Linked DNA regions of Homo sapiens: region 1 is linked to region 2. The links come from fine-mapping of genetic effects on gene expression. A gene starts in region 2. The other region holds a variant in brackets. All regions are shown on one strand. Distances are between the middles of the regions.

Region 1 (2,916 bases), 560 kb after region 2:
GTTGAACCTTTCTTTTGATTGAAAAGGTTGGAAAGAGGCTTATTGTACAATCTGCAAAGGGATAATTCTGATCCATTTGTGGCCTATGGTGAAAGAGAAATATCTTCACGTAAAAACTAGACAGAGTCAGTCTGAGAATTTCCTTGTGACGTGTCCATTCATCTCACAGAGTTGAACCTTTCTTTTGATTAAGCAGTTTGGAAACAGTCTTTTTGTAGAACCTTCAAAGGGGTATGTGTGAGCCCTTTATGGCATCAGGTGAAATAGGAAATATCTTCACATACAAACTAGAGAGAAGCTATCTGAGTAACTTTTTTGTGATGTGTGCTTTCATCTCAGAGAGCTAAAAATTTGTTTTGATTGATCAGTTGGGAAACAGTCTTTTTGTAGAATCTGCAAATGGCTATTTGGATTGCTTTGAGGCCTATGTTGAGAAATGAAATATCTTCACATAAAAACAAGACAGAAGATTTCTGAGAAACTTCTTTGTTATCTGTGCACTCAACTCACATGTTTGAACCTTTCTTTTGATTGAGCAGTTTGGAAACCGTCTTTTTGTACAATCTACAAAGGGATACTTCTGAATGGTTTGATGTCTATGGTGAAAAAGAAATATCTTCACATAAAAACTAGATCAAAGCATTATGAGAAAGTAATTTATTATGTGTGCATTCATCTCACAGATCTGAAACTTTCTTTTCATGGAGCAGTTTGAAAACTGTGTTTTTGTACAGTCTGCAAAGGGATATTTTTGAGACCTTTGAGGCCTATGGTGATATAGGAAATATCTTCACAAAAAAAGTAGACAGAAGCATTATGAGAAACTTCTTTGTGATGTGTGCTTTCTTCTCACAGATTTCTTTTAATTGAACAGTTTGGAAACTCTTTTTTTTTTAGGTTCTGCAAAAGGATATTTGGAGCACTTTGAGGCCTATGGTGAAAAAGGAAATATCTTCACTTAAAAACTAAACAGAAGCTTTCTGAAAAACTTCTTTGTGATGTGCATATTCATGTCACAGTGTTGAACCCTTGTTTTCATTGAGCAGTTTGGAAACCATCTTTTTGTACAATCTGCAAAGGGATATTTCTGGGCAGTTTGAGGCCTAAGGTGAAAAACAAATATCTTAACATAAAAACTAGACAGAGGCATTCTGAGAAACTTCTTTTTCATGTGTGCATTCTTCTCCCAGAGTTAAACCATTCTTTTTTT[AT/T]TATTATTATTATACTTTAAGTTTTAGGGTACAAGTGCACAATGTGCAGGTTACTTACATATGTATACATGTGCCATGCTGGTGCGCTGCACCCACTAACTCGTCATCTAGCATTAGGTATATCTCCCAATGCTATCCCTCCCCCTCCCCCCACCCCACAACAGCCCCAGAGTGTGATGTTCCCCTTCCTGTTGTCCATGTGTTCTCATTGTTCAATTCCACCTATGAGTGAGAATATGTGGTGTTTAGTTTTTTGTTCTTGCAATAGTTTACTGAGAATGATGATTTCCAATTTCATCCGTGTCCCTACAAAGGACATGCACTCATCATTTTTTATGGCTGCATAGTATTCCATGGTGTATATGTGCCACATTTTCTTAATCCAGTCTATCATTGTTGGACATTTGGGTTGGTTCCAAGTCTTTGCTATTGTGAATAATGCTGCAATAAACATACATGTGCATGTGTCTTTATAGCAGCACGATTTATAGTCCTTTGGGTATATACCCAGTAATGGGATGGCTGGGTCAAATGGTGTTTCTAGTTTTAGATCCCTGAGGAATCACCACACTGACTTCCACAATGGTTGAACTAGTTTACAGTCCCAACAACAGTGTAAAAGTGTTCCTATTTCTCCACATCTTCTCCAGCACCTGTTGTTTCCTGACTTTTTAATGATTGCCATTCTAACTGGTGTGAGATGGTATCTCATTGTGGTTTTGATTTGCATTTCTCTGATGGCCAGTGATGGTGAGCATTTTTTCATGTGTTTTTTGGCTGCATAAATGTCTTCTTTTGAGAAGTGTCTGTTCATGTCCTTTGCCCACTTTTTGATGGGGTTGTTTGTTTTTTTCTTGTAAATTTGTTTGAGTTCATTGTAGATTCTGGATATTAGCCCTTTGTCAGATGAGTAGGCTGCAAAAATTTTCTCCCATTTTGTAGGTTGCCTGTTCACTCTGATGGTAGTTTCTTTTGCTGTGCAGAAACTCTAGTTGAATTAGATCCCATTTGTCAATTTTGTCTTTTGTTGCCATTGCTTTTGGTGTTTTAGACATGAAGTCCTTGCCCATGCCTATGTCCTGAATGGTAATGCCTGGGTTTTCTTCTAGGGTTTTTGTGGTTTTAGGTGTAACATTTAAGTCTTTAATCCATCTTGAATTGATTTTTGTATAAGGTGTAAGGAAGGGATCTAGTTTCAGCTTTCTACATATGGCTAGCCAGTTTTCCCAGCACCATTTATTAAATAGGGAATCCTTTCCCCATTGCTTGTTTTTCTCAGGTTTGTCAAAGATCAGATAGTTGTAGATATGTGGCATTATTTCTGAGGGCTCTGTTCCGTTCCATTTATCTATATCTCTGTTTTGGGACCAGTATCATGTTATTTTGGTTACTGTTGCCTTGTAGTATAGTTTGAAGTCAGGTAGTGTGATGCCTCCAGCTTTGTTCTTTTGGCTTAGGATTGACTTGGCGATGTGGGCTCTTTTTTGGTTCCATATAAACTTTAAAGTAGTTTTTTCCAATTCTGTGAAGAAAGTGATTGATACCTTGATGGGGATGGCATTGAATCTGTAAATTACCTTGGGCAGTATGGCCATTTTCACAATATTGATTCTTCCTACCCATGAGCATGGAATGTTCTTCCATTTGTTTGTATCCTCTTTTATTTCCTTGAGCAGTGGTTTGTAGTTCTCCTTGAAGAGGTCCT
Region 2 (2,916 bases):
CATTCAGAAAGCTCTGGGTGCCCTCACATTTGAAAACAACACCTGGTGGAGGACGCTGCGATACCTAATTGGACAAACAGCAATAAAATAAGACCAGTGGAAGTGCTGAGCACAGGGCGCAGGGCTAGGGCCCAGGTTTTGTGTTCAGGCCTGCGGCGAGGCAGCGGCCCTGGGCGATGGGGCGCCGGGCGGTCAGGCACCGGCTGGCGACTCCGCTAGGCCTCCGAAGCCCGGCCTGCAGACCCTTTCTCCCAACCTCTGTGCCTCGTGGGCTCTCTCCGCTCCGACGCCTGGTCGGGGCTTCCCTGTTGAGAGGGTTTTAGGCAGAAGGGCCAAACGACTCAAGCCAGACTCTGCTTTTTCATTTTTCTCCCTTAGGCCTCTCCACTTGCCCGAGCTCTCAGCCACCAGGAGACAGACGGAAGGGGCTTCTGGATTGCGTTGGGAGCGGGCACTGTCCCCTACCCACTCCTGCTCAGTTTCCCAAAGTCCAGCGACTTCCGACCCTCCTTGGGGGGAAAAATACCAGTACCCAGACACCTTTGCACCCTGTTATATGACTGGGCTTGCTTCAGGAATATCTTACAAAGAAGAAGAAGAAGAAAGAACGGCTTGGAGTCATGTTTACATCTAGTTCTACTGATCCGTTCACATCTGGAGAGTTTATTTATAACTCCCTCTATAACTCTCTGTTTGGAGACACTGTGGCTCTATTGACAGACTGATATCTAGGAAATATTGCTCTATGTCTAACCGTACCTAAATGTGCTGTGGTTGTATTTACAGATTTATGTTTGAGGGAAATATAACTATTTCCATTGTATTTGTGCATATACAGTAGTTATAGGAGCAGATTTATATATGGGAAAATATACGACTCTCTTACAGCCATCCAGCTTTATGTACATTTGATATCCTGACAGATTTATATCTCTGAACAGCTATATAGATAAAAACGTATATTGTTAGAATTATGTATCAGAAGATATATACTTATTGATTGTGAAATAGAGTAGTTAGAGCATTCATTTAGAGCCATATATGGCTATGGAGATATTGCTATATTATTATCACTATATATAGGCATATCTATTTATAACTACATAGTTATAAAAATACATATAAGTAATTACAGTCCTATATGTGCATGCTGCAATCTCTCTCTAGAGTTATAGACACTTTCAAATATAACTCTATAGAGAGATCTGTATGCATATAAGGTGTAATTATCTTGTGATGTGTTTACATTGGGACTTAGGCCCGTCTGTCTAGAACACACATATTTATATGTAGGGGCTGGGAGAGACTTGTTCATAGATATCTGCAGAGGGCCAACTGGAAACACTGTATCTGCCCTCTAGGAAACCAGCTAGGAGAGTTGTGTACTTACGGAGGGATGGAGTTACAAAAGGTAAATAGAGCTTAGTGAGCCTTAAGGAGGGGAGGTGAATGGAGGGTGGGTAGGTGGTGGGCTCCCCCAGGCGGAGACGGGGGAAGCAGCAGGGGCTCCCAGCCTCAGGCCTGCCCGGACGGTGTTGGTTGGAGTGAGTCTCCCCAAATGTCGTGCCGCCGTCCGTGATCTCGAGGACCGGTTGGCCTGCGTGCCCCTGGGCTGCTCTTTCACCCGAGGGTCGTTCTGGTTGACAGCAGAACCCCGCAGCCTCAGGGGTTGCCTGGTGGTGTGTGTTTCAATGCCTCTGCTGTATGACCCTTTGTTTGTGTGTGTGTGTGTCTCCCATTCTCCCTTCTCTCTCTGTCTCTCAGTCTCTGTGTGTTTCTTTCCCACTCTCTGTGGGTTTGTGTGTGTGTGCCCGTGTGCTTGTGTGTCTTTGGCTGAATATGCCCTGTGAACCACAGAGCTGTCTCTTGCATGGCGGCCTGTCTTTGTTGAACCTCTTTCTGTGTCTCTGCCTGGGTCATGAGGCCGGTTGTCAATCGTTTTCGCCCCCGCGGATCTGCTTTGGCTGCGTGAAAGCCTGGCCCACGTGAGAAGATGCGTCGGTCTTGGAGCAATTGCTGTCTCGTCCCCATCCTGAGCGTCCTCTTTTCTAGCATCAAGAGGAACACACTGCAGATGAGGACAAGAGCCCCACAGGAGCTCTTTGTCCCACAGGAGATCAGCGGACCCACGTCAGAGAAGATGTTTGAGTCTTTTCGCGGCTCTTCTCTGAGAAATGAAGCCACACCACGATACAGTCAGCAAGAGGAAGCCAGGAATGAGAGATGGCAACAATCCCTGTCCCTGGAACGCTGGCCTCCCTGCACAAGCCACCCTTTAGGAACCCCACCCCTTATGCCTGTGACGGTGGCAAGGTGCTGTATCCTGCCTGGGCTCCGGCCTCTGCTCTGTCCTCCCTCTTGCTCTGCCTCCCCTGTTTCTCAGGGACCTGGATGCCTCTCGCTCTGGCCAAATGCCTTCAACTAAGATGACTTCCCACTCCGTCAGGGAGACACTTCCTGGAGACCCGTGTCGTGATTGTTTGTCTCTCCAAATGTGTTTCTGCTTGATTGGGCAGGTCTCATGGCCCGGGAACACTTGGCTTCCATAGGTGTCTCAGGCAGGTGTCTTCTCCACGTTTCCCCTCATGGGTGGGTGGATTACCTAGAATGAGCGCTAGGCGACCGTGACTGGCCTTGTCTTCCACGACAGGTGGTGTCGCATTTCCTCTGCACTTCCTGTCTCATTCTTGAGGGACATCCTCTCCTCTGCTCCTGGGTGGACTGAACCCCTTGATCTTCTGGCCGAAACGAATGTAAGGGAAACAAAGGGACTGGTCTAGGGCTGGGGGCTGGGGCTGGGGCTCTGTGCAGCCGAAGTTGCGTCAGGGCTGCCAGGGCCTTGGAGGGTTGGGGTTGGGGCGAATTTTGCAGAAACCTCTTTGCTCCTCCGGTAGGCATTCGAAAACGTGGCTTGGG

Which allele goes with the higher level. Alleles are on the strand shown, and positions count from the first base shown. SD is a standard deviation of normalised expression in the study named.
For the expression in tibial nerve of the gene that starts at base 1,314 in region 2, T is the low allele of the variant in region 1 and AT is the other (moderate effect, 0.45 SD a copy in GTEx).

What was found. PIP is the estimated chance that this variant, and not a neighbour inherited with it, causes the effect. A credible set is the group of variants that fine-mapping cannot tell apart.
Region 1: its variant is the best candidate, but not a certain one, in a credible set for the expression of LINC01597 in tibial nerve (GTEx, PIP 0.64).

Annotation. Positions count from the first base shown.
Region 1 is chr20:29,725,621-29,728,536 of GRCh38, reverse strand. No RefSeq gene overlaps it. Among named protein-coding and RNA genes, the nearest start is that of FAM242B, 180 kb to the right of the region's middle. The variant AT/T (reference allele first, on the strand shown) is at 1,211.
Region 2 is chr20:30,284,935-30,287,850 of GRCh38, reverse strand. LINC01597 (long intergenic non-protein coding RNA 1597) reads left to right here and starts at 1,314. Exons shown (of 2, transcript NR_145432.2): 1 at 1,314-1,411. It overlaps LOC107985433 (putative uncharacterized protein LOC401522), which reads left to right. Exons shown (of 3, transcript NR_171672.1): 3 at 379-823.